Linked DNA regions of Homo sapiens: regions 2, 3 and 4 are each linked to region 1. The links come from fine-mapping of genetic effects on gene expression. A gene starts in region 1. Each other region holds a variant in brackets. All regions are shown on one strand. Distances are from middle to middle. Region 1 holds the start of CELF6 (CUGBP Elav-like family member 6). Region 2 overlaps HEXA (hexosaminidase subunit alpha). Region 3 overlaps HIGD2B (HIG1 hypoxia inducible domain family member 2B). Region 4 overlaps GRAMD2A (GRAM domain containing 2A).

Evidence for each region.
Region 2: its variant is fine-mapped to the expression of CELF6 in whole blood (TOPMed, PIP above 0.99).
Region 3: its variant is fine-mapped to the expression of CELF6 in whole blood (TOPMed, PIP above 0.99).
Region 4: its variant is fine-mapped to the expression of CELF6 in whole blood (TOPMed, PIP 0.99).

The regions. Positions count from the first base shown.
Region 1 is chr15:72,316,537-72,324,639 of GRCh38, forward strand. CELF6 (CUGBP Elav-like family member 6) reads right to left here and starts at 3,621. Exons shown (of 13, transcript NM_052840.5): 1 at 3,077-3,621. The coding sequence starts at 3,338. RefSeq lists silencers at 3,308-3,647, 3,708-3,757.
Region 2 is chr15:72,339,409-72,347,511 of GRCh38, forward strand. HEXA (hexosaminidase subunit alpha) reads right to left here. Exons shown (of 14, transcript NM_000520.6): 11 at 7,119-7,302; 12 at 6,827-6,917; 13 at 6,038-6,142; 14 at 1,516-4,732. The coding sequence ends at 4,669. Among named protein-coding and RNA genes, the nearest start is that of CELF6, 23 kb to the left of the region's middle. RefSeq lists an enhancer at 2,950-3,449. The variant C/T (reference allele first, on the strand shown) is at 4,593.
Region 3 is chr15:72,671,198-72,679,300 of GRCh38, forward strand. It overlaps HIGD2B (HIG1 hypoxia inducible domain family member 2B), which reads right to left. Exons shown (of 3, transcript NM_001350932.3): 3 at 4,601-5,190. The coding sequence starts at 5,177. The coding sequence ends at 4,857. Among named protein-coding and RNA genes, the nearest start is that of HIGD2B, 11 kb to the right of the region's middle. RefSeq lists an enhancer at 1-538. The variant T/C (reference allele first, on the strand shown) is at 4,984.
Region 4 is chr15:72,166,797-72,174,899 of GRCh38, forward strand. It overlaps GRAMD2A (GRAM domain containing 2A), which reads right to left. Exons shown (of 12, transcript NM_001012642.3): 2 at 3,051-3,143; 3 at 2,143-2,200; 4 at 1,695-1,770; 5 at 940-1,043; 6 at 198-296. LOC124903522 (a long non-coding RNA gene) reads left to right here. Exons shown (of 3, transcript XR_007064706.1): 3 at 3,096-4,605. Among named protein-coding and RNA genes, the nearest start is that of GRAMD2A, 27 kb to the right of the region's middle. RefSeq lists an enhancer at 1,612-1,906. The variant T/C (reference allele first, on the strand shown) is at 3,694.

The sequences.
Region 1 (8,103 bases):
TCAAGGATCTTGATCTGTCAACCCTCCTAGGGCTTTGAGGTAGGGCCTCTTAAAGAGTTATTGTGCCTCAAATCTGGCTCCTCTAAAAGGGCCAGCATATATGGGTCAGCGAAGAGGTCTAGGTTGAGCCAAAGGGTCAAGTTTAGCCCTCTGTTTGTTCAGCCTCAGGACCTGTAGCCTGCTAGGAAGCACTGAAGCAGCACTCTCCTCCTTTCCAACAGCCACTGAGCACTCATTCATTCAGAAAATATTTATTGAACACTTACTTATTATGGTGGGGCATTTTGATGACCTTGGAGATAGAGTGGCAACAAGACACACATTCCCTGCCCTCATGGGGATTAGACAAATCATGAGGGACCCCTAAACAAGTCCAAAGGGTTGAGTAATGTCTCAAAGAAGGCACTGAGTCCTCGAGAACAAGAACACTGAGTCCTTAACAATCAGGTGATGAAAAGGACAGTGATTATTTCAGACAGAGGGAAAAGCATATATGAAGACTGAATCAAGAATTTGGTGTGTTGGGGAAATGGATAGGTTAGTGTGGCTGGAGGCTGGTGTATGGGGGCAGAGTGGCTAGTGAGATATGCAGGAATCAAGTCATATGTAGCCTTGTGGGCCTCAGTTGGATTTTGAACTTTTTCCTAAGAGCAATAGAGAGCCACTTTAAAGGGTTTTAAGCAGATCTGTGAGATGATAAGATCTGTTTTCAAAAGGAGCATTCTGAGTGTAGGAGGGAGAAGGACTGAAGGAGGAGAAAGTGGATATGGTGAGCCATTAGGAACTTGGGGCAGATTTCCACTTAGACCTCAGCAGATTAGAAAGGCAAATGGGAACATTTTTTTCTGGCCTCTTCTACAGGGCTGCCCCATTAAGATGGGTTTATTGCCGGACATTCATTGAGTTAAAGGGAACTTAGAGAACTGAGCAAAACTCTTATCACATCAACAGGGAAACTGAAGCCCAGAGAGTGGGTCAGTGGCAGGGCAGGATTTGGAATGTCTTAACTCCCAAGCTGGGGTTGTTTTCAAAGCACTGTGGCTGCCTGCCTCGGTACCCAGACATCAAAAGGAAAATGAGTCACTGTTTCTGGGGAGAGGATGAGGAAGATGTTGACTTGGAGACCCTCTACAATCATCTTGGAAGGCAACACTTGCCTTGGAGAGTTGTGATTTAGTTTGGAAATAAATCACCAAACACCTGATTCCACTTACATCCCTGCTCTGTGTTTTGCTACCAACCCATATCACCTGACGTCCAAACCGGGCAGGTTGCCTGTCTGAAAGGCTCAGGGGCCCAGTTGCTGCCTAAAGAAGCCCCATGTGGACTAGCCGGGATAGAGGGTGGAAGAATGAAGGGAAGAAAAGACAGAGAAGCATGGTTTGAGAGACAGATGAATGAAAATAACAGGCAGAATTAGAGCTAAATGAAAAGAGAGAGGATGAGGGAACAGTTCAGAGACTGATAGTGAGAAGAGTGAGATTTAAGGGTATTCTATACACTTCCCTTATTGTACGGATGGCCTACAAAGATTAGCTTTGTATGTACATCCTGAAATCAATGTCTAAAAATAAGAAAATGAGTTACTACAGAGGGATGGACAGACAGGCAGGTAGTGGGAGTGCATTAGAAGGACTCTAGATGGTGAGGTATTGTCCTTTCATACACCCATTAACACAATCCCAGCCCAAAGGGTGGAAGCTGTACTCCTAGCCAGATGGTCCTAGCTCTTCTATTGGCATTTTCTCGAAGTGCCTACATTAGTGTGCCAAGGAACCCTACGAGGCCTCCAAGTTGAAGAGGTGGCAGTCTGATTCCAGCTCTCAGTCCTTAGGAATGTACCTTTAGCTGTTACCCAAGGCCCACCACTCCTCTCTTAGGAAGATCATGGAGGATAGTTGGTGACTCTTTCCCAGCAAAAACTTGAAAGCACAGCATGGTGGTGGTGGTGGGGGAGGAGATAAGAGTGTTCCTTCTCAAATCATCTCCCCTTCTCCTGCCCATGTATGACATGTGACTCTGGCTCTCTTACTCCAGCCCTGCCTGGACAGACTTTTCTGCATGTAAACAAGCCTCCTCCCTCTCTCTACAGGAAGAAAGGGGTGTGGCCGAACAGGACCGTGTATCTCTCTAGAAAGGGCAGGGAGAAGATCTCCTTCTGTCTCTTCAGCCTGACTCACCCTGAGAATGGGCCTGGACTGGGACCAGCCTGTGAGGGGAGGGAAAGAAAGAGGCCATAAAGAGGACTGGGGAGGAGCAAAGAAGAGGCACAGGAGTGAGGGGATTAGAGAAGGAAAGAAGTGTGGATTTAGCTGAGAGAAATCCAAGAAGAAAGGGACACAGGGTGGCAGGAGTTCCCAGCTGAGGTCAGGGTTCTGAACTGAAATCAAAAGAGGTAGAGTGCATTGGGATTCTGGCGAAGGGCAGGAGAGATTGGGGCTGTTGTTGAACATGAGGGGGTGTCTGGAACTGAGAGCCTCCTGGGAATTGAATTGGATTTTGTGTTAGACAGGTCTGGGTTCTGAAGAAGGGGAGGGTTTGGGTCTGCGGTGTTTTAGGTTGGCAGTCTGAGAGTCAAAAGAAGGCTCTTGAGGGGGATGGCCGGACTAGGAGGCCAGAGGAGGGGTGCAAGTCCAAGATATGCATGTGGGTGGTTAGGCCTGAGTGAGGTGCCACCAGATGGAGGATTCAGGAGTGTTTGGGCTCAGGGTTTGGGAAATTGAGGGTATTCGAGATCTAGAAGGTGGAATAAGTTTTCAAATTCCAGAATTTTAGGTCTGATGGGAGAGGTGGTGGAAAGGTCCAATTGAAAGGCAGGGACTGCTGGGATGTGAGAGGTGGAGGCCAGGAATTTGGAGGTTAGAGTGGAGAACATGTTAGGGGACCACAGTGATAATCAGAGGGAGGATGTCAGAGAGAAAATTCTGTGATCTGGGAAGGGGGCTGGGCTGAGGTGGGGCTGATATTGGACTGGTGTTGGACTGGCTCTCGGCAGGGCTAGGGCTGGGGCTGGGCTGGGGTCGGGCCACACTCTAATCGGATTGGGGCTGGGCTGGGCTGGGCTGACCCCGCGCACCTTTGTGGAGGCCGGTGAGCCGGTCCTTCAGCACCGTCAGCTCGTAGATGCGGCCGAACTCCTCGAACAGCGGCTTGAGGTCCTGCTCGTCCAAGCCCCGCGGGATCTGCCCCACGAAGAGCTTGATGGCGTCGTGGTCCTTCATGGGTACGGCGGGACCGGGGTTTAGCCCGCTCATGCCGACGCCGCTGTCCGCGGTGCTGAAACCCAGGCGCGGGCCGGGGCCAGCGGGCTGCGCTGACCCTCCCGGCGCCGCGGCCATGTCCCCGCCCTGTCAGCCCTCCCGCCGGTCCCACTGGTCCCGCCTGTCCCGCCGTCCCCTCCCTGGACCGGTGGCGAGGGCCAGGGGGAGGGGGCGGAGCCCGGGCGGAGAGGGCGGGGGGCTGCCCAGGGGGCGGGGTCCGGGTGGAGGGGCGTAGAGGGGGTGGGGCGGGCAGGAAAGGGGCGGGGCCGGGGCGGGGCGGGCCCGGGCCGAGGTGGCGGCTGAACGCTGGGGTCTGGCTTGAGGTCCCCGTGCGGCTCTCTCTGGGCTCCCGCCCGAGCTCTCCCAGAGCCGAGCCCCGAGCCCCAGCCCCCGTGCTTGGTGACGTCAGGCAGCTGGCCGCCGAGTCTACGCAAATGATTTGCATAATGAGGAAGCAGCCGCCAATCAGAGTGGGAGTTGACTGGGCTCGCCGGGGGCGGGGGGGGCGGCTGGGCTCACGCGCTCCTGCTCGCCATGGCAACCGGACCCTCGAATGCCCTGTGTGTGTCGAGTGTGTGCGGGCGTGGCCGTGGATCGCGCGTGTGCGCCTTGGGCCGCGTGAGGGGAAGCAGCTTCGTCATGCGTGATGGTGTCTGCCGGAGTCGGGGCTAATCCCCACCGCACACACAGGCACACACAGGCAAACGCAGGCACACGCAGGCACACACACCTCCAAACGCTGGTGCGTTTCCTGCGGGGGTGGATGGGGATTCCTCTTCTCTATTCCCACTATCGAGCCAGTCCCTCGGAGCCAATCCCACCCCGCCCCATCACACATCTCTGTCTTCGGTGTCTTTAACCACTTTCTTACCCCTGAGCCTCAGACACATTCGTCTCCCTTGCAGCCTTAAAAAGAAAGGAAGAATAAAATAAAAACCCCTTAAACACTCCTTGAACACGGATTCCTCCTTAGGAGAGTGAGGGAACTTAGCCGTATTTACTCAGAACCCATTATGCACCAGGTGCCCAGTTCATCCCAGTTCTGTGAACTCAGGAGTGTTCTCTTTTTCCGGAAAAGGAAGCTGAGGTTCTGAGGGTCGAGGATGTTAGGGCCAGGCCCACCCCAACATTTGTTGGGCCCAGCGCAAAATAAGAAATGGAAATCGACATACTGTGCATCTAAACATTTAAAAGATACAAATCAAATTACAATTTGTTAAATATGTTCCCCTCTTATTTTCACAAATACAGGTTCAGAATTACGAAAATGAAAGACATATGTACAGCTACGCTTTCTATATGACTGAAAGTTGGCAAAATATCAGAGCTGATGGAATTTTATTACTCCTGCACATGTCTAGGTATTCTCTTGATGGATCAGTGATGTTTGCACAAAGTAGTAATACAATGTTTGGACAAAGACACATACTTCATAAATTATATATTTATTCCATAATATATTTTTCATGCCTCTTTCAGTAAAATTGCTAATTATTTTAATAGAGATTTCCTTTTTTTTTTTTTGATAGGTTATCATTCTGTCACCCAGGCTGTAGTGCAGTGGTGCGATCTAAGATCACTGCAGCCTCAACCTCCTGGGTTCAAGCGATCCTCCCACCTAAGCCTCCCAAGTAGCTGGGATGACAGGTGCACGCTACCATGCCTGGATAATTTTTTTTCTTTTTTTTTTTTTGTAGAGATGGTGGTTTCACCATTCTGCCCAGGCTTGTCTAGAACACTCCTGAGCTCAAGTGATCCACCCACCTCGGTGCCCCAGAGTGCTGGGATTACAGGAGTGTGCCACTGCACCTGGCCTAATAGAGATTTTAACATAACTTGTGTCCATTGACTATTCTAAGAAACTGCTGGAGACCAGCAGTAGCAACTGGAATCATCAAAAAGTTCTTAAAACAATATTCAATTCAGAAGCAAATCATGATTTTTAAATGATTTATTTTTCTGGCTGAGCATGGTGACTCACACCTGTAATCCCAGCACTTTGGGAGGCCAAGGCGGGCAGATCACTTGAGGTCAGGAGTTCAAGACCAGCCTGGCCAACATGACAATATCCCGTCTCTACTAAAAATACAAAAATTAGCCAGGCATGGTGGCGGGCTCCTCCTACTCTGGAGGCTGAAGCAGGAGAATCGTTTGAACCCACGAGGTGGAGGTTGCAATGAGCCAAGATCGTGTCACTGCACTCCAGCCTGGGTGACAGAGTGAGATTCCATCTCAAAAAAAAAAAAAAAATGCAGCAGCAAATTATGATTTTCAAAAATCATTTTTCTGGCGGGATGCGGTGGCTCACACCAGTAATCCCAGCACTTCAGGAGGCCGAGGTGGGTGGATTGCTTGAGATCAGGAGTTTGAGACCAGCCTGGCCAATATGGCAAAACCCCATTTTTACTAAATGAATAAATAAATAAAATAAATTATTTTTCTCCTTTAACAGAAAGTTACTCCTTGTAATAAGTTGACCACGAAATGGGTTACTGGAATTTCATTTTCATTCAGTCCTATGTAGTTTTTTTTTTTTTTTTTTTTTTGAGATGGAGTCTTGCTCTGTCGCCCAGGTTGGAGTGCACTGGCCCGATCTCAGCTCACTGCAAGCTCCGCTTCCCGGGTTCACGCCATTCTCCTGCCTCAGCCTCCCGAGTAGCTGGGACTACGGTTGCCCGCCACTACGCCCAGCTAATTTTTTTTGTATTTTTAGTAGAGATGGCGTTTCACCATGTTAGCCAGGATGGTCTCGATCTCCCGAGCTCGTGATCTGCTTGCCTAGGCCTCCCAAAGTGCTGGGATTACAGGTGTGAGCCACCATGCCTGGCCCAGTCCTATGTATTTTTTAAAATTTTCACCCCAAAAGTAGTAAAACAATTCAAAAATCAGAACAAAGTTCTCTGCAGAAAAAGAAAAATACAGTAAAAAATTTCCTTGAGGCTTCCTCTTTGATCCATATATTATTTATAAATGTATTGTTTAGTTTCTAAGTGTTTGGAGGTTTGCCTATTATTTTTCTGTTATTGATTTCTAGTTTGAGTCCATTGTGGTCAGAACACACTGTGTATAATTTCAATTTTTTTTTTTTTGAGATGGAGTCTCGCTTTTGTCACCCAGGCTGGAGTGCAGTGGCGTGATCTTGGCTCACTGCAACCTCTGCTTCCCGGGTTCAAGCAATTCTCCTGCCTCAGCCTCCTGAGTAGCTGGGATTGCAGGCACCCGCCACCATGCCCGGCTAATTTTTGTACTTTTAGTAGAGATGGGGTTTCACCATGTAGTCCAGTCTGGTCTCCAACTCCTGACCTCAGGTGATCCGCCTGCCTCAGCCTCCCAAAGTGCTGGGATTACAGGTGTGAGCCACTGAGCCTGGCCTCAATTCTTTTGCATTTGTTGAGGTTTGTTTTGCTACCCTCAGTCCCAAGCCTGGGACTACAGGCGCCTGCCACCACACTCAGCTATTTTTTTTGTATTTTTAGTAGAGATGGGGTCTCACCATGTTGGCCAGGCTGGTCTCAAACTCCTGACCTCAAGTGATCCGCTCCCCTTGGCCTCCCAAAGTGCTGGGATTAAAGGTGTGAGCCACTGTGCCCAACCTTGTATTTTTAGTAGAGAAGCGGTTTCACCATGTTGGCCAGGCTGGTCTTGACCTCCTGACCTCAAGTGATCTGCCCACCTCAGCCTCCCAAAGTGCTGGGATTACAAGTGAGAGCCACAGTGCCTGGCCCTATATGCTTGCTGATTTTGTCTAGTTGTTTTATCAATTGTTGAGAGAAAGGTGTTGAAGACTTCAATTGTAATTGTGGATTTGTCTATTTCTCCTTTCAGTTCCATTAGTTTTTGCTTCACATATTCTGTAGCTCTGTCATTTGGGGCATAAACATTAAAAACTGTGATGCCTTGATGAATTGATACTTTTATTATTATGCAATGTCACTCTGTTCTTGGTAAGCTTTTTGTGTGGAGAGCTACTTTGATATTAATATAGCCATTTATGTTTTCTTTTGATTAATCTTTGCAAAATATACCTTTTTCTATCCTTTTACTTTCAAGCTACGTATATAGCTGTATTTAAGTGAGTTTATTTTAGACAGCATATAATTGGGTCATTTTTTTAAAGTCCACTCTACTAATCTTTGTCTTAGTTGACATATTTAGACCATTTACATTTAATGTAATTATTGGTATTACAGGTGTGAGCCTGTAATTTACATTTACATTTAATGTAATTATTGGTATGTTAGGGCTTAAGTCTGTCACTTAATTTTTTGTTTTCTTTTTGTTGCCTATGTTCTTCATTTCTCTTTTCTTTATCTTTCTTCTTGTTTTTTTGTTTTGTTTTGTTTTGTTTTTTTAGAGATGGGGTCTTGCTATGTTGCCCAGAATGGTCTCAAACTCCTGGCCTCAAGCAATCCTTCCACTTTAGCCTCCCAAGTAGCTATTATTACAGGCATGAGCCACTACACCTGGTTCATTTCTGTTTTATTTTTCCTGTGCTCTTGTTGATAAAGTGTTTCTTATTCTATACATACATAGCTTATCACAGTGTACCGGTATTGACATTTTGCCAGTTTGAGTGAAGTGTAGAAACCTTACCTACTATTAAGTCCCTTTATCCTCCCTCATTTATAATTACCTTAAGTATTTCCTCTATATATTTCAGAACCACTTTAGACAATGATATACAATCAGCATTTATAAAAAACTTCAGAAGCATTAAAGTCTATCGCATTTACCCACATTTTCCTTCTTTCAGTTGTTTTTTCTCCCTTTCTGACAGTCCAAGATTCCTTATTTTATCATTTCCTTTACATTTTAAGAACTTCCTTTAGCCATTCTTTTAGAG
Region 2 (8,103 bases), 23 kb after region 1:
AGGATAATATTGATAGCACATTGGTTGGGATGAGGATTAAATACATTAACATCCAGTAAAGTGCTTATAATAGTGCCTGACAGGTCGGGCTTGGTGGCTCAGCCTGTAATCCCAGCACTTTGGGAGGCCAAGGTGGGCAGATCACCTGAGGTCAGGAGTTTGAGACCAGCCTGGCCAACATGGTAAAACCCCGTCTCTACTAAAAATACAAAAATTAGCAGGGTGTGGTGGCACATGCCTGTAGTCCCAGCTACTTGGGAGGCTGAGGCAGGAGAATTGCTTGAACTCGGGAGGTGGAGGTTGCAGTGAGCCCAGATTGCACCACTGTATTCCAGCCTGGGTGACAAGAGCAAAACTCCATCTCAAAAAGAAAAGAAAAAAAAAAAAAAAACAACAAAAGTGCCTGACACAGCAAGCACATAAAAATGACGAAGCACTTTTGTTCTCCTAGCTGGATCTCCACATCTATCTTCATTCAGATTTCTGACTCATGTGAGTCTAGATAAACACCAGCAGTTGAGTTCCTATGTTCAAATATCCTCTTTCATAATAGATCATCCAGACACTCAGACACACGCTCTCACTCACACACTCTGCAGCACACCAGCGAGCATGGCACCCCTTCCCATCTGTGTCTGCCTGCCAGCTGCTCTTCCTCCTTTCCCACACACACTCCCTTTTTTGAGTGGCTTCCAAAACATCTCTTTCTAATTTGCTATAAAGAGTGAGCCATAAAGAATTTATTAAGTGATGAAAAAAATCACAGCTAAGTATCAGATTCTCCAGAGGAAATAAGATTAAAAAGAAATTCTGGAAAACAGTTGTTTTTGGAGAAGGGAATAGCATTGGGAAGGGGGATATTAATAATGTTTCATCTTTTTTGTTTAAAAAAAACAAATCTGAAGCAAATATGACTACTGAGATGCAACAAAGCTGGGTGGTTACACTGTTTACTATTTTCTAGACTTTTCTGTTGTTTGAAACATTTGAAATCACTAAAAAATAGGAGTATTTACTGGGATAGTTTAGACTAAACATGGGTGTGGTTAGAGTACAGTAATTACTGTGAAAAAAGCAAGGTTCCTGGACATTTAAATTTTTTTCTTTTTTTTGAAACATGGTCTCACCCTGTTGCTGAGGCTGGAGTTCAGTGGTGTGATCATGACTCATTGCAGCCTCAATCTTCCAGGCTGAAGTGATCCTTCTTTCTCAGCCTCCTGAGTAGCTGGGACTACAACCACACACCACCATTCTTAGCTAATCTTTTTAATTTTTAGTAGAAATCAGGTCTCACCATGTTGCCCAGGGTGGTCTTTAACTCCTGAGCTCAGGCAATCCTCCCACATCGGCCTCCCAAAGTGCTGGAATTAGAGGCATGAGCCACTGCACCTGACCCTGACATTTCGATTTTTAAAAATTTTGTTGAAAAACGTCACACACACACACACACACACACACACACACACCTGCTTCAAAGAGGATTTTTAAAAACAATGGTGGCTCGGCTAGAAAAGATACTAATTTTCAACCTTTATTTCAAAGTTTATTTATAAAGGAAATACAAATTTTGATAAACAAAGCACCCAATTCCTACTTATTTTTTTTCTTCGTGGAAAAAAAAGTATGTGACACATACTTGTCATGCCCTGTATTGATTAAGCTTACAAAAGATATTGACAGAAACTATACAAATCTAGAATTTAGAGTGCTAGGAATGTTGCCATAAGGTATGTGTACCTACATTAATACTAAATAAATTCCACCTACATCCTTTCTTTCACCCTTTCCCAGTATCATTTCAGCTTTCCTCACAGTCTCACTGTCCCAGAAGTCTAGGGGCAATGACTCTCCATCACTAGTGCTGTGGTGGCACCTGTGCTCCCACATCCTGATATCCTACCCCTACGGCAATCCTTTGAGAAGCACCTGAAAACACCAGTGACCTAGCTTTATTAGATTCCTCGAAGGGAAGGTACCTGGCATGCAGCCTCAGCTCCTACCAAGGAGAGGAGAGGTTGAAGACTCTCCCAGTCTCCATTCACTCCTTTGCTTTGATACCCGTTAGGCCTGCTTTGCCTCCTTAATAGACTCCTGGAATGGGAAGGGGTGGGGGTGGGGAGCGACTGGAGAACTCTTTTCCTAGGATGACTGGAGCCAGGAAGTCAGTCTGGAAACTTCCCCACCCCCTGGTGGTGCACAGCACACAAGATGGCCTGTGTTCCGCTCAGGGGTGGGACTTTCAATTTACAGCCTAGGTGAAGGGAGATGAGTTGGGGCAACAGCGATTCTGTTCATTGGAACAGACTGGGTGGTAACTGCAGGCCACTGCAGTTGACCTGTTGGCATTCGAGGTCTGACGACCTTCAGGTAAATGCTCTTATGATCAGTGGACCAAAGGAGCAACGGTGGAGGGTGAGGAACAGCACACTTTACCAATGAAAGTCGTGACCAGGCCACGTTAGTTTAGTGGTAAAAATAATAACATTAAAGAAAATGTTTACAACAGGAATAGAAAATGACAGAACCCTACTGCTTTAACTCAAGTGTATCACGATCTCTGCCTTCATCCACTTGAGACTTAAAACTCAGTGTCTGCTATTTTTACTTAACATTATCCCAAGCAATAGTAACATGAAAGTTATGACCAGGAGGGAAGCAGGGTCGCACCTGTGCAGGGTCCTTGTCTGCGGACCACCCCTCCTACAAGCTTCTGGGTAATAGAGGTAAGGGGGCTCCTGTGGTGGGTGCCAGTGCTGGGACCTTAACTTGTGTATCTGGGCTATAGCCCTGGACTTGGCTAGGCTGGGCTGTGTGAAAATTCCAAGAATTCTGTTGGTAGAAAATGCCCACCCTGTCCTTACAGGAACAGCACAAGGCTAGGCTTGTCTACCTCCCACCAGGACCTCGAAGGAACATGACCCAGGGGCTGAAGGATGGTGTTGAAGGACCGAGTTTTACTCAGATCCTTCTCAGCCCTGCCTTCCTGAAGTTTCTGTATCCACTACACTGGAAGCTTTCTGAAAAAAATGCCTGGAACCTGTCCATTGTTACCCCAGCCCAGGGCCCAGCCAAAGAACTTAACAAATAACCGCCAAGGAAATCCTCACCTAAAATGGCTGCGATGCATTACTGCCCCCGCCTCTGGCTTACAGTATCACTTCTGCATCTGAAACCAGGAGGGGGCAGTCTGGGTCCACGACGAGACATTTCCTTCTAGAGAAAATCACACCTGCAAAGACCCTCTCCAGAGCCACCGCCCACCTCCGCGCAGCCATCCATTCCCTGCGAAGATGCTTTGGGCTGAAAATGGTTGGGAGGAGGGGGATGGAAGTCGCCTACGTTATTTTGGAATTGACCAGGGCCTCTGAGTCCTTCAAATTCAACAATTTACCACAGGCCCGCGTGCGGTGGCTCACGCCTCTAATCCCAGCACTTTGGGAGGCCAAGACAAGTGAACATCTGAGGTCATGAGTTCAAGACCAGCCTGGCCAATATAGTGAAACCCCATCTCTACTAAAAATAGATGAATTCGGCCGGGCGCGGTGGCTCACGCCTGTAATCCCAGCACTTTGGGAGGCCAAGGCGGGCGGATCACGAGGTCAGGAGATCGAGACCATCCTGGCTAACACGGAGAAACCCCATCTCTACTAAAAATACAAAAAATTAGCCGGGCGTGGTGGCGGGCGCCTGTAGTCCCAGCTACTGGGGAGGCTGAGGCAGGAGAATGGCGTGAACCCAGGAGGTGGAGCTTGCAGTGAGTCGAGATCGTGCCACTGCACTCCAGCCTGTGTGACAGTGAGACTCCGTCTCAGAAAAAAAAAATATATATATATGAATTAGATGGACATGGTGGCACGTGCCTATTAATTCCAGTTACTCAGGAGGCTGATGCACGAGAATCGCTTGAACCCAGGAGGCAGAGGCTGCAGTGAGCCAAGATTGTGCCACTGCACTGTCAGCCTGGGCGACAGAGTTTTTGAGACAGTCTCAAAAACAAAAACAACAAAAAAACCCACTACCACAGTGCCTAGAGAACAATATGTGTTTAATAATATTTAAATAATGGTTGTATAAAATTGAAGCAGCAAGAAACCCAAAGGAGAATAGCTCTAGGGGAGGGAGGTGGATGAGTATGCATGGGGGAGAGGCTCTTCTGTGACCAGGTTGGGTCTGGAGCCCTCCCCACTGTCCAGAACACCTCCAAGCCCCTACATCTTTTTCCATATACCAACGCCTTGGAGATATAATGCAGAAGTGAAGTGAGCAGGCTGAGGATTAGGGCAGGTGTCTGGAATATGGTCAGGAGTGGGAGGGGAGTGACATAGCTCACAGGCAAGGCAGAACAGCACAAAGGCTATAGGTTTCATTCCCAGCCCTCAACTTAAAAGACCTCAGGGGCAGACACTGACTCCAGCCTGGCTGTGCCCTTACCCTAACGCCATTCACACTTTTTTTTTTAAACACAGGTAATCCATGTTTATTATAGAAAAATGCCACATTACTCTTTATTGAATGCGAGCGCCAGCACCGGCCCCTTTCTCTCCAAGCACAGGGGCACGCAGGCAAGGGGCACGAAGGCAAGGGGCTCCGTC[C/T]CCTGGCCAGGATGCAGTGGAAGCCTGGCTCCACTACCATTCACCTACAGCCAGCACCCTCCTCGGTGCCTGGGGCTCAGGTCTGTTCAAACTCCTGCTCACAGAAGCCTACATTGAGGGGTTGGGCCTGGACACCTCGCCTGCAAGAGGACATGAAGAAATGGCAAGATAAGCCCCTCAGAAGGGGCCCCAGCAACACTTTTCACACCAGTCAACAGTCTCTCCTTCCCCATTTCGGTGACTCTCAAACTGTCACTGTACACCAAATGCACCTGGGAATCTCAATTCCAGAGATTCTCACCTGGGGTGGGGCAAAGTATTGGCAAGAATCTGCAAGCTGAACAGGTGCCTCAGGTGATTCTGATACAGGTCTTGGAGATCCAGAAACGTTGGCGACATCTATTTATATCCTGCCCATCTCTGTACCCTAACCCCAAATAACTCAATCCCTTTAGAATATAGATGGATGTCTGAAAGGCAGCCAATGCTCTTGGTCTACTTAGCCCTCTGTTCCTGACTCTAAAATGCTGTAAATATGGTGGCACTGGGGGACTTAGGTGCTGTCCTGTCCATGAACATGGATGCGAAATCCTGTCCTTGGGTCTCAGTCTATAACCTGACCAATCTCCTTAGGGGACCTCTAGGCATGCTTCCCTTATCATCCAAGTAAGCAACATGCTTAGAGAACCAGCTGGAAGTTACCCAGTGAATGACATAATTGAGGCTTAGACACCATCATGCTTGACTCTCAGCCCAGGACTCTGCTCTGCACTAGGCTATGTCCCCCAAGTACTCAAGACCTAGCCAACGAAGGAATCAGGGAAATGACTATCTTACACAGGCACATCCCTGACAGAGGCAAAGGTGTCATGACATCCTGTAAGTCAGCCTGGTTCAAATCCTGCTTCTTAGTGACTTTGGGCAAGGTCCTGAACTCTGTGCTTCAGTGTCTATCTCTAAAATGCACCTGTCTCATGGGGCTGTGGTGAAGACTAAATGAGACAATATTTGTAACAAACTTAGCACAGTGTTTGCCACAAAATACAGTTGTCCCTCAGTATCCACAGGGGATTTGTTTCAGGACCCCCGTGGATACCAAAATCCAAGGATGCTCAAGTCCCTTATATAAAAATGACATAGTATTTGCATATAACCAATGTACAACTTCCCATATACTTGAAATGATCTTAGATTACTTATACCTAATACAATATAAATGCTATGTAAATAGTTGTTATACAGTATTTTTTATTTGTACCATTTTTTGTTGTATTTTTTTTTTCCTGAATACTTTTTATCGCAGTTGGTTGAATCCGTGGATGAGGGCTGACTATAAGCCTCTGTAAGTGTTAGCTATTGTTAATTATTGTCTTCCTCTCTCTAAGGGGTTCCCCAGCCCTGGATCTGGCCTGCTCCGCCTTGCGAAGGCCCCACAGCTTGCTTACCTCAGCAATTCACAGCGGAAGTGTGACAAACGTTCATAGGCAAATGTCAGGTCAGATGTCAACTTGTTGCTCCACAGCCTTTCGGCAACAGCCCCTGCTCTGGGCCTGGAGGAAAAGGGGCATGTGCCAGATTGGGCCCTGTATTCCCTGCAAAGGTGCTGGACATCCACAGGCTGCTACCTCTTGTCTAGGCACCCTGGACTCACTCAGGCCAAAGGAAGTGATCAATACCTTGTTATGAGCCACAGCCAGGTTGGATGGCTCCCAGAGAGTTCTACGGCTCAGCTCCACCTTCATTAAAATGTGGGTAGCAATCCCACTCTCTTCCTCTCTCAAAGATATGGGAATAAGAATAAACCTTAAAGCCATCATTAACCACAATGACAGTGGCAGCAGCAGAGGTCCTTAAAATGTAAACTTTGCACACCCAACCATACTTGGTAAGGCTGCAGTGAAAACAGCAGAGGGAAGCCTTATTACAGGAATCATGGATGCTTGTGCTGGGTCTTGAGCAACTCACCTATGTTCTCCAGGCCTCATTATCTCTCTGGGAAGTAAGGTTAACAATCCCTATCCCACATACCAAAGGGCAGCTGGAGGGATATAGACGGAAGTCATGTGGAGAGTGAATATTGCACACAAATCTTCAGAAGGCTCGTTGCACGGCCTGCTCTCTCTCAGGCCTGAAAGAAGGGTACTAGTCCAGAGGTGGCTAGATGGGATTGGGTCTCTAAGGGAGAACTCCTGCTCTCAGGCCCAACCCTCCACCTCCCCCCCGAAAACCCTTACCAGAGCCTGGGGACCAGGTTTGTGTTGTCCACATATTCTCCCCACATACAAGCCTCTCCACCAATCACCAGAGCCTTCTGCTCAGGGGTACCTGAGGGAAAACAAGCAACAACAGTCTGGTGATGGTGGGGTAACTCCAGGGTCCCTCTCAACCACCTTCCCAATGTGGCCCTCACCCCAGCTAAGTTGTTTCATTTACTAACTGGAAATGTCTGGCCCAGACCTTCCTGCCTCCCATCCTGTGCCCCAACCCAGCCTCCTTTGGTTAGCAAGGAGAGCTCTCTGCTTTCACCTTCAAATGCCAGGGGTTCCACTATGTAGAAATCCTTCCAGTCAGGGCCATAGGATATACGGTTCAGGTACCAGGGGGCAGAGAGAAGGGCCCGGAAGCCGGCCTTGGTGACCAGTTCCAGCTCCTTCATATAGTTCACTGGAATATCCTCTCGCCACACCTGTATGATTGTGTCTGGCTGAATCTGTTATAAAAGGTCAAATGGCAGTAAGGACACAAAGCTGAGGAGATTCCTGGGCCTTATTCATACACAGGCAACATGGGACAACAGGTATGTGCTCCCTCTGTTCCCCAGCAGCAAAGTATGTCTCTGTGACTCCTGACCATTGAGCTCACACCTCAGGACAGAGGCCAAGGAATCCAGGGCCCTAAGAGGCCTCCCTGCAGCTCTCCTCCCCGTCCCTCTGCAGCCTCCCTGTCCACACAGAGCTAGTAATACCAGCTGTGAGCTGAGGGAGGCAAGCAGTGGGACCCAGGAGCTGCCATGTCCAAAAGTCTCCAGATGTTTCTGGGGACGGGACAAGGTTCCTGAAGAGTCCTTGCATGTGACAGGAGACTGGGATCTTACTGATCAACAATAAAGGAGAAGGTAACCTTGGTCCCACAGACCCAGAAGACCCTCATCTATGATTTAGGAAGAAAAATCCAGCCTATCCAAGTAACCTAACAGCAGAAATAGTTCTTAATTAAGTTTGTAGTGAGGGAAGATAGAAACTCTGACACATAAACCCAGGGCTCATACCACAGCGGCCTTTGGTTTTTTTGAGGCAGGGTCTCACTCTGTTGCCCAGGGTTGAGTGCAGAGGCACATCTTGGCTCACAGCAACCTCTGCCTCCTGGGCTCAAGCAGTACCCCAACCTCAGCCTCCTGATTTTTGTATTTTTTGTAGAGATGAGGGTTTTGCTATGTTGGCCAGGCTGGTCTTGAACTCCTAGGCTCAAGCAATCCCCCTGCCTTGGCCTACCAAAGTGCTTGGATTACAGG
Region 3 (8,103 bases), 350 kb after region 1:
CTGACATACGAGGGACTGGAAGACTGGTAGAGATGTCAGGTCACAGGCTGCCAGCACAGCACCCCCATGATTGGCCACGGGAGTGCTGGAGGAATGGTGGGGGTTGGCTGTCCACTGGCTGGGCATGACAGGGAGACTCACTGGAGGTGGTGCACTTTGGAGGGGCGATGTCAGGGATGTATTTGGGTCTCAGTAAAGAGATCTGTTCTTTTTAAATTTCTGCATCTAGTTGCCTATACGCGATGATGACACATAGCAACTTATTTTTTACTTTCTAAAGACAGGATATCATGCAAAGAGATCAAGCTGCCCTTCTATAAATATAACTCAATTGCCTTCCAGCCATAGGCTGCATGCTTCAAGTTGTTTTCAGAAATAAGAAATGGGTTGAGCTGAACCACTTATAGCCTTACATGGAGAGTTCCCACTGTGACCTGTAGCACATGTGAATTGACTTGCTTAATGTATGAAACCAATGGAAATGAGATGAAAAGTCCTATTCTCATGCAAGCCCGTTGGGTTATGCAGAGACACAGTAGCAGAGACACAGCCCTAACTACAGCCTGCCCTCCGGAAAACATGTGTCTGTTCATATGGAAATGACACAAGTCTAGTGCTTGTCTGAAAGTCATGCAGCAAAACAAAAAAAGTCTCTGCAAAACCGGGGAGAGTTTTTTACAATGACTTTAACTTTGAGGGTGCTCTTTAGCAGAGGCTTTTGATAAAGGAAGAATTCTATCAACCAGGATCACTGAGGAGGAATGAATTTATAACTACTCTTTTTAAGGCTAGAAGAGACCTTAATTAAATTCCTTCTATTTACAAAGGAGGGAACTGAAGTCCAGAAATGACAAAAGGTTTGGCAGCTTTAGAAATAAGGCAACATTGAGTTTCAGTATTCTAAACTTTTGGAAAGTGGTAAAAATGAAGGATATTGAACAAAAAATACTAGTTGTTTTTTTTCTATCTTGTTCAGTTAGTGTCAACATGCTGTAAGTTTTCATAATTTTTTTTTTTTTGAGATGGAGTTTGACTCTTGTTGCCCAGGCTGGAGTACAATGGTGCGATCTCAGCTCACTGCAACCTCCGCCTCCTGGGTTCAAGCGATTCTCATGCCTCAGCCTCCTGAGTAGCTAGGATTACAGGCATGCACCACCACGCCTGGCTAATTTTGTATTTTTTAAATAGATAGGGTTTCTTCATGTTGATCAGGCTGGTCTTGAACTCTCAACCTCAGGTGATCCACCTGCCTCAGCCTCCCAAAGTGCTGGGATTACAGGCGTGAGCCACTGTGCCCAGCCTATTTTTTTTTTTTTTTTTGAGACGGAGTCTTGCTCTGTTGCCCAGGCTGGAGTGCAGTGACGCAATCTTGGCTCACTGCAACCTCTGCCTCACAGGTTCAAGAAATTCTCCTGCCTCAGCCTCCCGAGTAGCTGGGACTACAGGCGTACACTGCCACGCCCGGCTAATTTTTTTTTGTATTTTAGTAGAGACGGGGTTTGACTGTGTGGCCCAGGCTGGTCTCAAACTCCTGAGTTTAGGCAATCCACCCACCTCAGCCTCGCAAAGTGCTAGGATTACAGGCATGAGCCACCGCACCCTGCCTGGTTAATTTTTATGATAATAAAAATATTCTCATAAAATTTGGGAAATTCCAAAACCTATGGAGAAGAAAATTTAAATTATTCATCATCCCACAATTTATTCATTTGCTTATTTGAGCAACAAATAAAAGTGCACACCTTATTAAGAGCAGGGCATGTTCCAAGACTGACTATCCAGAAATGATTGATAGCCTCTAACTGATTCCCTTCCAACCCATTTCTCAGTGCACTACTACTAATAATTTTAAAATCAGATTATTTAGTTTTGAAATCTCCTTTTCACCTAATATATCATAAGCCTTTTCCCAGGTTATCAAATAATATTCCAAGCTATGATTTTAACAGCTGCATAACGTCACATCATATAAATTTACACTGATTTATTAAACCATTGTACTTGGGACATAATAAGATGATCAATTTTTCAATATTATAAATAATGTTGCATGTAACATTCTTTGGCCACATGCCTGATTATCTTTGAAAACTTCCCTAGAATTCAGATTGTTAGATCAAAGCCTTAAATATTTTTAAGGTCTTAAATACACAATACTCAACTGCTTTCTTGAAAGACTGTAATAGTTTTACTTCTACCAGCTACAAGAGTGTCTTTCAGTCATGCAACAAAGCCCACACCTCAAAACAATGAGTATTAGCTTTAAAAAAGTCATTGTCAACTGAGTTCAAATGGTTTTTCCTTTAATTTGCAGTTCTTACTTGGCAATGGTTAAGTCAAACTTTCCAAAAAAAACTTTGTTCTCTTTTTTCATAAATTATATATGCATGCTTTTTGTCATTTTCTATGGAACTGTTAACATTTCTTCTTAGCATTCTAGTCTTAATATTTCTCAGTGAGGGATTTTTCTGACTGCATTCTGAGATCTAGGCTCCTGGCTGGGGCAGCAAGAGGTGGGATGGAGAAAGGGCGGGGAGTCAGAGTCAGGCTTGTTCTCTTAGTCCTTCCACAATCACCAAGGTGTGACCTGGGCCAACTCTTGGTATCTCTGGGCTTCAGTTTCCTCCTCTGTAAATAGAAGGGTCTTAATTAAGGTCCCTTCCAGTCGTATAAAAGGGAGTTAGAGATCCGTAGTTTCAAAGCTTCTTTCACTATCATGATTTGTGATCAGCTTTGAAGGAGGTAGTGCTAGTGGGTAAACATCAAACCATAAGCTTGTTTGCCAGTTCTAACCTACCACTACCACCTACCACTGAGAAAATCATTTCAAGGCTCTTAGTTTCCTGATCTGTAAATGGAAACCTCGTTTTACAGATTTGTTGTAAAAATTATGTGAAATAATAGAAATCAGGCCAGGTGCGGTGGCTCACACCTGTAATCCCAGCACTTTGGGAGGCTGAGGCGGGTGGATCACCTGAGGTTGGGAGTTTGAGACCAGCCTGACCAACATGGAGAAACCCTATGTGTACTAAAAATGCAAAATTAGCCGGGCATGGTGGCGCATGCCTGTAATTCCATCTACTTGGGAGGCTGAGGCAGGAGAATTGCTTGAACTCAGGAGGTGGAGGTTGCAGTGAGCCGAGATCATGCCATTGCACTCCATCCTGGGCAATAAAAGTAAACTCCATCTCAAAAATAATAATAATAATAGAAATCAAAGTGTATAGAGCATAATATACCACAGACAGGCAGGATGCAGTGGCTCCTGCCTGTAATCCCAGCACTTTGGGAGGCCGAGGCGGGTGGATCATCTGAGGTCAGCAGTTCGAGACCAGCCTGGCCAACATGGTGAAACCCCGTCTCTACTAAAAATACAAAAATTAGCTGGGCATGGTGGTGAGTGACTGTAATCCCAGCTACTTGGGAGGCTGAGGCAGGAGAATAGCTTGAACCTGGGAGGTGGAGGCTGCAGTGAGCTGAGATCGTGCCATTGCACTCCAGCCTGGGCGACAAGAACAAAACTCTGTCTGAAAAAGGAAGAAAGAAAGGAAGGAAGGAAGGAAGGAAGGAAGGAAGGAAAGAAGGAAGGAAGGAAGGAGAGAGAGAGAGAGAGAAAGAAAGAAACAAAGAAAGAAAGAAAGAAACAAAGAAAGAGGGAAGGAAGGAAGGAGACCATATTCATACTAGTAGCTGCTTATGACTAATAGAAGTAAGGATGAGGATTAGAAGGGATTTCAACTTTATAATACATTCTTTCCTTTATATAATAATAATGAAAAAGACAGCCAGTCACAGTAGCTCATGCCTGTAACCCTAGTGCTTTGGCTAAGGTGGGAGGATCATTTGAGCTCAGGAATTTGAGACCAGCCTGGGCCACCGAGCAAGACTCCATCTCTACAAAAACTTTAAAACAATTAGCCATGTATGGTAGCCTGTGCCTCTAGTCCCAGCTACTAGGGAGGCTAAGGCAAGAAAATCATGTCAGCCCAGGATGTCGAGGCTGCAGTGAGCTATGCTAGTGCCACTGCACCTGCACTCCAGCCTGGGTGACAGAGTGAGACCTTGTCTCCCTTTTAAAAAAAAATGAAGCAAATATAACAAAATATTAACAACAGTCAGTGTTGATTCTGTGGTAGGAACATAGTTGTTTGCAAGATCATGCTCTGTACTTTTCCGTATCTTAAAAAATTTCCTGGCCAGGTGCGGTGGCTCATGCCTGTAATCCCAGCACTTAGGGAGGCCAAGGCAGGCTAATCACGAGGTCAGGAGTTTGAGATCATCCTGGCCAACATGGTGAAACCCCGTCTCTACTAAAGATACAAAAAATTAGCCGGGCGTGATGGCGCGTATCTGTAATCCCAGCTACTCGGGAGACTGAGGCAGGAGAATTGCTTGAATCTGGGAGGCAGAGGTTGCAGTGAGCCGACATTGTGCCATTGCACTTCGGCCTGGGCAACAGGGCCGAAGTTGCACTCCAGCCTGGGCGACAAGTGCAGCCCATCTCAAAAAAGAAAAAAAAAATTCCCCCTTCCCATACAAATATGCCTAGCTCATAAAAGCAATCCTAAAAGATTACATACAGTATGTGTGTAATTTTTTACTTTTTTCTTATTTTTAGAGTTTATTAAGCAGGGGAGTGGAGGGAAGATGTGGCACAAATAGAAATATGTAACATTCAAACAACAGAATCTGGGATTTTTGAAAAAATCTTTCAGTTATGGTTACAGGAAGGGTCACTTCCTCCCCCAACGACACAGGGACCTCTCAAAGGAGAGGAGAGAGTAAGTCCCATGGTAGGGCCAGTGGTTGCTCCTGGGTTTTGGAATGATTTCTGCAGAGTTTTCAAGACCCTGGGCTCAGGGTGGAGACTTCATAGCGGTGGCAGCTAGACCCAGCAAGATGGCTGCAATGGTGAAGCCCTGGGCGGCGATCTGGGTGTGCATCATAAGCCGTGAACATTGGCTGTTGCCCTGGTGGAAGCAG[T/C]AGAGGCCGTTGGTGAGGACGGCCGCCGTGCACAGGAAACCTATGGGTACCACCGGATTCTCGCGGGTCTTGCGAAGGAACTTTTCCTTGAAACCCTCTGGATTGCTGTAAACAGTGGGGCTAAGCCCCTCAAAGATGGGGGGCTTCGATGATTCAAAGGGGGCCTCCGGAGTCACAAAGCCGAGAGTCGCCATGCCTAGGCCACAGCTGCAGGAGAAAATCCTTTGTTTTTTTTTTTTTTTGAGAAGGAGTCTTGCTCTGTAGCCCAGGCTGGAGTGCAGTGGTGCAACCTTGGCTCACTGAAACCTCTGCCTCCCTGGTCCCAGTTAAAGCAATTCTCCTGCTTCAGCCTTCCAAGTAGCTGGGATTACAGGAACATGCCACCATGCCAGGCTAATTTTCATATTTGTATTTTTAGTAGAGACGGGGTTTCACCATATTGGCCAGGCTGGTCTCGAACTCCTGACCTCATGATCTGCCTGCCTTAGCCTGCCAAAGTGCTGGGATTACAGGTGTGAGCCACCATGCCCAGCCTACATGTTTTATATAATGTTATTTGATATAACAACTTGGAAAGGACAAAATTATAGAAATGGAGAATAGATTAGTGGCTGCAGGGGTTAGGAATGGGGAGGTGGTGGGAAGGAGGTATATGTTTATTAAAGGGTAATGACAGGGAGGCTTATGGTGATGGAACTCTTCGTATGTTGACTATGGTGACAGATAGGAAAACCTACACGCGTGACAAAACTGCACAGAACTAAATACACACAAATGAAGTAAAAGTGGGGAAGTCTAAATCAGATTGGTGGACTGTATCAATGTTAACATTCTGGCTGTGATATTACACAATAGTTTTGGAAGATGTTACCATGGGATAACTGTAGAAAGGGTATATGTGATCTGTCTATTATTTCTTATGACTGCAGGTGAATCTACAATTATCTCATAAGAAAAAGTAAGAAGAGGCCAGGGGTGGTGGCTCACACCTATAATCCCAGCACTTTGGGAGGCCGAGGCAAGCAGATCACTTGAGGCCAGGAGTTTGAGACCAGCCTGGGCAACATGGTGAAAGCCCATCTCTACTAAAAATACAAAAATTAGCCGGGCATGGTGGCACACTACTCAGGAGCTACACAAGAGGCTGAGGCAGGAGAATCGCTTGAACCCCGGAGGCGGAGGTTGCAGTGAGCTGAGATCACACCACTGCCCTCCAGCCTGGGTGGGCAACAACAGCAAGACTGCAAGGGAATAATGTTCTGTTTGGGAAAGAGACTGCATGTAAATAGGGGGTCTGGTAGGTGGGCATGGTGGCTAACACCTATAATCCCAGCACCTTGGAAAGCTGAGGCAAGAGGATCACTTGAACCTAGGAGTTCAAGACCAGCCTGGGCAATATAGCGAGATTCTGTATCTATAAAAAATGAAAAAATTAGCCAGGCATGGTAATGCATGCCTGTGATCTCAACTACTCAAGAGGCTGAGGCAAGAGGATCAATTGAGCATCCAGAAGTTGAGGCTGCAGTGAGCCATGATCATGCCACTGCACTCCAGCCTGGGCAACAGGGCAAGACTGTATCTCTAAAAATTAAAAAAAAATAAAATAATAAATAGAACATATAAAAGTAAATAAAAATTAAAAATAGGGATCTGGAGCTGGTAGGGAAGAAACAGAGCTGTATGGGAGAAAAGAATACTTTTCCTTGTTGATATATGGTCTGTGTCCCCTTTTTCTCCTCTTATTTTCTTTTGCATTCTTGCTCTGATTGACTTCTTTCTCAAGTGCCTCTTCTCTCTGACTTTCCCTGTGTCATTATTTTCCTCAACTCATTATTTTCCCTCTTTGCTTTGCTAAAAGACTCTATCCCTGCATCTTATTCAGAGCACACTGACTGCACTGGACAGGAGTTACAAGAGGGAAGAGGTACTCATAGAATCCTGGATTTCTAAAACACTTAAGCTACAAAGGTTGGTGAATATCAGAGTCCAATAGTCACATATTACACAGAGGAAAACTGAAGTGCTGAGAAAGGAAATAACTTGTGTCACTCACAGAGGGAATTTTTGGTAAAGTTGGAATATAAGCCTGGGATCCACTAGAACAGCTTCCCTAATTTTCTTTTCTTTTTTTTTTAGACAGGTTCTCACTCTGTCACCCAGGCTGGAGTTTGGTGGCATGATCAAAACTCACTGTGGTCTTGACGTCCTGGGCTCAAGTGATCCTCCTGCCTTAGCCTCCCAAGTAGCTAGGAATGCAGGAGTGTGCCACCATGCCTGGCTAATTTTTTTGTATTTTAAGTTTGTAGAGATGGGGTCTGGATATATTGCCCATGCTGGTCTCAAACTCCTGGACACAAGTGATCCTCCTACCTTGTGCTCCCAAAGTGCTGGAATTAGAGGCGTGAGCCACTACGCCTAGCCCTAGTTTCTATAATTTTCAACAGACGGAGCTCACTAGTTGGAGAAAAAGAGATTCCTGGGGGCAGCCAATTAAAACATAGAGAAATTAGAGCAACATGGTGAGAGAAATAATCTGATCAGGTGCAGTGGTTCGCGCCTGTAATCCCAACACTTTGGGAGGTCAAGGCAGGAGGATCACTTAAGCCTTGGAGTTTGAGACCAGCCTGGGCAATATGGCAAAACCCCATCTCTACAAAAAATAAAAAATTAGCTGAGCATGGTGGCGCATGCCTGTAGTCCCAGCTACTCAGGAGTCTGAGGTAGGAGGATCGTTTGAGCCTAGGAATTCGAGGCTACAATGAGCCATGATTGTGCCACTGCATTTCAGCCTGGGTGACAGAGCAAGAGACTTTGTCTCAAAAATAGAAAAGAAAAGAAAGAAAAAGAAAAGGAAGGAAGGAAGGAGGGAAAAGAAAAAAGAAAAAAAAAAGAAGGAAAGAAAGAGGGCAGCCAGGCGTAGTGGCTCACGCCTGTAATCCTAGGACTTTCGAGGTGGGCAGATCACCTAAAATCAGGAGTTTGAGAGCAGCCTCGTTAACATGGTGAAACCTCATCTTTACTAAAAATACAAAAAATTAGCCGGGCATGGTGGCACACTCCTGTAGCCCCAGCTACTAGGGAGGCTGAGGCAGGAGAATCGCTTGAACCAAGGAGGCAGAG
Region 4 (8,103 bases), 150 kb before region 1:
GGGGTATCAGGCCATGAGAGCCAACAGAAGCTCTGCCTAGGAACTTCTCTTCCAGCTTGTTGTACGGCCTGAAATACCTACTGGAGAGCTGCAGGGTGGGGTGAAATAAAGACCTGGGAATGTGCCCGAGTCAGACTGTGGGCTGTCAGGGCTGGGAGCGGGAGACTGACAAGGGAGCATGGGCCCAGTGCACTGACCTTCTGGCTGGTGTTGGTGGTGATGGCCAGTCCATTGGGAAGGAGCCGTGCCATCTTGTGTTTTTTGATCATTTGCACAGACACCACAGGAATGACCACCTGAGAGGGAGAGGGATGCTTCTCTCAGGACTAACCCCCAAGGACGTGGTCCCTTTGCTCCCTGCCTAGGGACCCAGCTGTGAGCCCAGCATGGCCACCATGGGGAAGCCTGGCCCCATGTGGGGAAGTCTCTGAACCTTCTACCTTTTCATCCAGGCTCCCCTTCCAGTTGTCCCTGCCACCCTGCCCCAGCCTTGGCAGGATGTGTCACTCTTGGCTGTCACATAGGTATGATCCCTGTTATCCAGGAGGCCAAGGATGGTGGCTCTGGTAAATCTCATACTCTAGTAATGGAGCTCCCCAGGCTACTTCTTGGCCACAGCTAGGGCTCCGCCTAAATGTGATATCCCACTCTGATTCTCAAAGCATTTCTGAAATACCCAGAGGCAGAATGATTTGGCTGTGAACTGTTCAGGCCAGCTCAGGCCAGATGTGGGGTCCAGATTGGGCCCCTGTTTTTGAAGGGGCAGGACTACTTTCCTGGACACTGGATGGGATGCCTCGAAGCTGCGCATCCAACCAGCAAGGGGCTTCACCCGGGGCCCAGCACGCAGAGAGATAGGCATGACTTTGAGGCATGCCCGTGGGGCAGGAGGCTGGCTCCCCTCACAGGGTCATGGCAGCCCTCACCACTCATTACTACCTTGATATCCTTGCCAAAGAGGCTGGCATGGAAGCAGAGCCAGTTGGGGGAGATGTAGAGCCGGCCCTGGAGGAGGAAGTCCCTCTGGAGGGCACAGGAACACACTAGGATGTCACAGGAGAGAAAATGGCCATAAGCAAGGTCAGCCCAGGAAGCCCCAGGACCTGGGTCCTCACGTTCTGGAGTCCACAGTCCAGCCTCAGGACCTGTCTTCCTCAGACTCCCCCTTCCCCACCGCAGGCCCCAAACCCCAAACAGTCCATTCCCCAGCGTCGAAGGGTCCTTCTCCTGACTGCTCCTCCACTCCACCAGCCTGCTGGATGTTTCTTCCTTCTCCACCCTTGCTCCAGAGGGTCCAGGCAAGTTCCTGCCCTGATCTCCAAGCCTGCATTCTCACCACCTCAGGCAGAATCCCTGACCTTTCCCTGCTCTGCTCTGCCCCAAGGGCCTTGATTGTGCAAATGCCCCCACCTGCTCAGTGAGAGGCCAGAGCAGGTAAGAAGTCACCAGTAAGAGCAGGACACAAGATTCCAAAGCCCTGACGTTTCCCCAAGAAAACCTTCAAAAATGCAATGCTATGTCCAAACCAGCCCAGTCTTCTCACCAGCCCAGTCTTCTCACATTCTAGGGGAGTGGTCCACATCTAAAGGACAGCCAGTTCCCATTTCTAAGTCGTGCTTTGGAGGCTCCAGAGCAGAGGCCCCTGGCCCCAGGCACTCTGGGTGCCTAACCAGCTATACCGGGAGACAGCTCACCTTTGAGAACCACTTCCTCCAAGGGAACATCCTTAAACAGCTTGTGGTATTGCTGGTTGTATTTATTCAGTGTTATCTGCAAACACACAGGCTGCGTCTGAGAAGCGCTGGGAGATGAGACCGCCAAAGGGGCCCTGCTCCAGCCAACAGGAAATGCCACAGCCCCCCGGCCCATGCTGGGGACTTAGCATGAGGCAGCTAGTAAGCAGCCAGTGAGTATGGAGGGCTGTGTGCCAAGCACAGCTTGTCTCCTGGTGCTGCTAGGTCCTGACAGGCAGCTTGTACTAGCAGAGGGGGACACACTACTCCCACCCAGGAAGGGATACACACTCAGGTCTCCTGATTTCCTGATGACAGGCCCGGTGGCCAAGGAGCCAAAAGTCACTGAATTCTGGCAGCCCAGGACCCCTTCCTGGGTGAATAGTGAGAAGTCAGCCTCCAGACTTACCCCTTCTCGGCCACACTTCTTTATCTCTTCACCCTTCAAGCCTTCTGGCCAGTGCAGACTGCAAAGGAGACATTCCATTTCGGGAACAAGGAACCCCAGTCCTGCCCATGCATCCTCAGTGCCAATTCTGCCCTGGCCTTGAGCCAGAAGCTTGAGGCAGAGATCAGAGACTAGGACCCTTCTCTAGGGGACACAGCAAAATGACAAGTACAGCGAGCACACAGCTAAACTATACAGCTCATCCCTGGGGGAGGGCACTGCGGGAGGTAGAGAGGGGTCGCCAAGGGCCCACCTTCCCCAGTGCGGGTGAGCAGCATCTCCTGGAGGTGCGCCTGGTCTCCCAGAGATGCTGAGGAGCTTCCCACCTGGGTGTCAAAGACCCTGTCCCATTTCTCTGGCCAAGGGGTAAGCAGGGGAGCAGGCAGTGCTGGAATAGGGACAGTTTGGGGTGTGGGTGAGGTGAAGGTGTCAGACTCACAGCGCCGGGGCCTGGCCACAGGCCATGATGCCAGCAGGACTGCCCTCCCTGCCGCCTCCTTCCTGTGGCCTGAGCTCTGCTGCGGGGAGCTTGGCACAGACTCACCTGACCTGGCTGAGGCTACCACACTGGGAGAGGGGGATGGCACTGAGAAAAAAAGGTAAACCTTTGCCTTGGCCAGGTTGGCCCAGAGCACAGGTGAGCAGGGAGGAGGCTGGAAACCCGAGAAGCATGGACTCTGCTAGGTCCCAGTGCACTGGGACAGTCTTGAGGGGCGGGAGGAAGAAGCCTGGGGCAGCCTGTGCCTGACCTCACAGACCTGCAAAGGGGCCCCGGCTCTGCCTTGAGGTCCTCTTACAAACAGGTCACTTCCTGAGGGCTTCCCACCCTCTAGTCTGTGTGTATCTATGACTGGGAAAGGGGTCCTCACCTGTAGTCCGGGGGCTCCTCAACTCTGTCTGGTTTCTCTTTGCAGGACACAGGACTGTTCAGAGAAGCTGTCTTTCTGTGCATTTGTTGGTTGCTAGGGAAAAACAGGCCCATATCAGGAAGGGGGCTTCATGAGGACACCTTTCCCTAACAGCCCCACCATGCCCATGGCCGCTGCCTCTGGCCCCCACCCAAGACTGGCCCTGATATTGAGGGTGACACTGAAAATGTCACAGTTCAGAGGCAGCAGCGCAGGCAGAGGTTCTGGGATGGCTGACGGAGTAGGCGGGTCTCACACAGCGTCTTTCCCGAAAGCCAGAAGTTCTGCTTATGCCTAGGCTGGGAGGAAAATCAACCTGTCTACCTCATCTCCAGTGCCAGGCAGCTCGTAGGCCAGGCTGAGTGAGGCCTCTAGCCCCACCCTTGAGGAGGCACACTGAGAGGGAGGACCCTGAGACTCGCTTATGCCGAGAACAAAAGTGTCCAAAGTACCCGCGCAGCATGACTGTAAACCATCAGGTTCCGGGAAAGTAGGCTGAGCACAGGAGGCCTTATCAAAGCTCAGGAGCTGATGCGCTGAAGGTGTGGGAGGTGGACGCCCATCAGCCTACAGGTGAGTGTGGCCAGGAGGGGAGGAGCCGTCT[T/C]ATACCAGGAAGTGGCCTCAGCCACCTTGGACAGTCAGGACAGCTTGATGATGAGAGCCAAACCATCTCAAAAATGTCCCTGAGGGAGAGCGTAGGAGGGAACAGATCCTCTCTCCCTGGGCAGGTCGGGCTCTCCAATGGCCTTTGAGTTCCTGCCTCCACTAATCGCTCCAAAGAATCATTACCCTGTTCCTGCTCCTCCAGGCTACACATCAATAAAGCCTGAGCCGTCAAGCCAGCCCCAACCAAGTGGGCCCAGGGGCTGACCAAGAAAGAGAGGGTGGCCAAGAAGCAGGGCCGTGCTGGGGCAGTGTGGTGGTCAGGAACAGGTAACAAGGTCACGTGCAGTGGTCCTGCTGCAGATTAGGAGCTGGAGCCTGGAACCTACAAATCTCAATGCTCAGTCACCCTCCGCTCTGTGACTGAGGCCAGCCAAAGTTCTCTTCTTCAAGAACAGAGTTTTCGCCTCAGCCCAAGATCTGCCAGGACCCTCAGAGATTGATTCAGCCTCACCCGCTCCCACCATACCATTGTACAGATTATGAAACTGAGACCTGCCAAGGGACAGGCTGTGTCCGGTCCTACAGTGAACAGCCAGTGACCTCACCCACAAAATCAGCCCAGCCATGGCCATGTGGCCTGGTTACCTCTGTCCTCAACCTTAGAGAGGATTTTGCCACACATATCAACATATACCTACAACAGTCTTGTGAAGTGACAGATTTTGCTAGAGATTTGACTCTCAAAGTTGATTTCTGGATTTATTTGGTTCCATCATGTCACATTTCACAGAGGTTTTTTTTTTTCCCTTGATTTTTAAAGATTATAGAAAATATGAAAAATATATATAAGATCAAAATCACCTAAAGATTCCCCAAAAATCACCCAAATAAAAAATGTATGATAAACATATAACCTATGTAAATGGTTATATAATCTATAATTTGTATACCCTACTTCTGTGGCTTAACCTGATTTCATGAGAAATTTCCCATGTCACTCACTGTCCATTCCTAAGATAGATTCTCAGAAGTGAAATTAGTGGATTGAGAATGAACAGATGCTGTTCCAGTTAACCCAGCCATCAGCACGACATGAAGGTGCCTGTTTCCCCATATTCATGCCCTTCTCTGGATATTGTCTCTCGCTCACCTTTGCAAATCTGATAGGTGAAAATACGTTGTCTTCATTTGTATTTCTGCTTACTGGTAGGTTGAACAGTTTTTTCCAAATAATTATTAACCACTGGAAGTTCATTGTCTTATAGAGAATTCACAGGTGAAATTCTTTCTTCATTTGTATTGAAGTTCTTTCTTCATTTGTATAAATTTTTTCTGGCTTTTTTATTTTTTTTTTTTGAGATGGAGTCTCTCTCTGTCGCCCAGGCTGGAGTCCAGTGGCGTGATCTTGGCTCACTGAAACCTCCACCTCCTGGGTTCCAGCAATTCTCCTGCCTCAGCCTCCCAAGTAGCTGGGACTACAGGCGTGTGTCACTGTGCCTAATTTTTGTATTTTTTAGTAGAGACGGGGGTTTCACCATATTGGCCAAGCTAGTCTCGAACTCCTGACCTTATAATCCCCCTGCCTTGGCCTCCCAGAGTGCTGGGATTACAGGCATGAGCCACCACGCCCGGCCTTTTTTTTTTTGAGACAGGGTTTCACTCTGTCGCCCAGGCTACAGTACAGTGGCGCAATCTTGGTTCACTGCAGCCTCAGCCTCCCGAGCTCATGTGATCCTCCCACCTCAGCTTCCCAAGTAGCTGGGACTACAGGAATGCTCCACCATGCCGGGCTAAGGTTTTCATTTTTTTTGTAGACAGCGGGGGTCTCACTGTGTTGTCCAGGCTGGTCCTAAACTCCTGAGCTCAATCGTCCCACCTCAGCTTCCCAAAGTGCTGGGATTACAGGTGTGAGCCACCATGCCTAGCCTTTTTTTTTTTTTTTGGAGACAGAGTCTTGCTCTGTCACCCAAGCTGGAGTGCAGTGGTGTGATCTCAGCTCACTGCAACCTCCGCCTCCCAGGTTCAAGTGATTCTCATGCCTCAGCCTCCCGAGTAGCTGGGATTACAGGTACCTGCCATCACATCTGGCTAATTTATTTATATATATATAAATTTTTTAGCAGAGATGGGGTTTCATCATGTTGACCAGTCTGGTCTTGAACTCCTGATCTCAGGTGATTCACCTGCCTTGGCCTCTCCAAAGTGCTGGGATTACAGGTGTGAGCCACCATACCTGGCCTGTAAATTCTTTATTGAGAACGTTAATCCTTAGTTTATCATTTTTGTGATGTTTTCCCCAGTTTGTCGTTTCTCTTTTGTCTGTGGTATTTCTGCTGTGCCTGTGTGTAATTACTGCATGGGAGATTCCATCTATTTCTTCCATGTATGTTTCTCGCTTGGTCTCAGTCCTCTCACAGGACAGGCCTGGGGGGAGTAGATATGCAAGTCAGACCACTGAGCCATTACAGCGTGGGCCTGGCAGTGAATCCATGGGGCCGCCAGGGAAAAATTCTGTGGGCTCAGCTCTGAAGAACCTGCATCCCAGACTGAAGGATGGATGAGGGATAGAACGGGATGACAATGGGAAGGAGCTTGGACAGTGCTTTCAGAGGCAGGGAGCCTGTTGCTTGAGAATGTGAGTCAAATTCTCAGGACTGCAGGAGCTCAGAGGATGCACAGATCCCTGGGAACTGAAATACAGTGGGGTTCCTAGAGAAAAGGAAGCTGAGCCTTAGAAACTGGGTATAATTATAATCTTGCATGGATTATCTAATCTTGCATAGATAACCATGTCTTTGCATGGATTCTAAACCAAACACATCCTTAGGTTCAAATGTGACTGTCTCAGGGAGAGAAGCCTTCCCTCAGCCCTCCCCCAGCCTAGGTGAGTAGTCCCTGCTTCAGATACTCACTCACAGCACCCTGATCGGAAGTCTCTGCTCAGCATCTGTCACACTGTGTCTGTGTGCCATGACTGTGCATCTCCAGGGGCTCACAGACTCTGCCTGGTCCTTCATTGAATCCCCTGAGTCCAGTGCTGAGCATGCAGCAGGCGCTCACGACAACTCCAGGGAGGAGCTTTCCTGCCTTCAGACCAGGCTCAGCCACCAAACCCGGCCAACTTTCAAGTCTCTTTAAATTAAAAGCCAACTCCTGGCCAGGTGTAGTGGCTTATGCCTGTAAGCCCAGCACTTTGGGAGGCTGAGGCAGGTGGATCACCTGAGGTCAGGAGTTCAAGACCAGCCTGGCCAACATGGTGAAACCCGATCTCTACTAAAAATATATAAATTAGCTGGGCATGGTGGCGGGCATCTGTAATCCCAGCTACTCAAGGGGCTGAGGCAGCAAAGTCGCTTGAACCCGGGAGGTGGAGGTTTCAGTGAGCCGAGATCACACCATTGCACTCCAGTCCAGCCTGGGCGACGAGAGTGAAATTCTGTCTAAAAAAAAAAAAAAAAAAAAAAAAGCCAACTCCTTTACACATGATCAAGAGGATGGTTGCAAGCCATTCCTTTCTGTTTGCCCACTGAAGCCAGTTCCTCCTGTCTCTCTGCTGATAATGCTCTTGGCTCAGAGACCCTGCCTATGGCCAAAATGAGTAAACCTGCCGCGCTCTCAAAACGATCTTCAGTTCACTTTCCACTCAATAGTGGTGTCTTCTCCCCTGTAGTGTTTATTTTGACGAATGAAAATAAAGAAATGGGAGTAGTGCCACCTGAAGAAGTACAGGGCAGACTGGTCACTGAGCACTCACCAGCAGAACCACTCAGGCAGGGGACACCCAGTGACCAGCTGGGCCCTGACCCAGAGGGCCAAGAAGGAGGCTTCAAGAGCACAGGGCTCAGCCTGGTCCCCCACCCTGCAGGCAGCCGCTGTAGACTCTACTCACAGACTTTTTGTCGCGCTAGGTGTTCATGCCCTGTGGGTTGTGAACCACATCTCCTCCCGCTCTGTCCCATCCAGTCCCGTCCCATCCCCATGCCCCAGCTGTGGAATTCATGTCAGGAGTCCTGGAAGCCATAAAAAACTACCTAATTTCTGTCAGGAGAGGTATGGAGCAGGGGAGTGGCAGTGTTTTGACATTAAAGGAGGTACAAAAGATTGGAAATCCTCCGATGAGGCCCTTCCCCTGGCTGAGCATGGTCTGAAGGCAGGAAGGCCCCTCCCTAGAGGGCACAGGAGGTGTCTGCCTGCTCTCCAGCCCCATGCAGCAAAAAATACTCCCTGAGCTTTTCACATCATGAGGCAGGTAGGGAGCTCCCCAGCCTGAGAAGCTGCCAGAGGGCAGGGATGGCACCAGCACAGGGAGATGTCAAGAATGGGGAGACAGGGCAGGAGAGGAGGGGGCAATGAGTGGGAGCCCAGATACACAGGAGTCTAGGGGCCTCGTGGTGCACCTGACACAGGC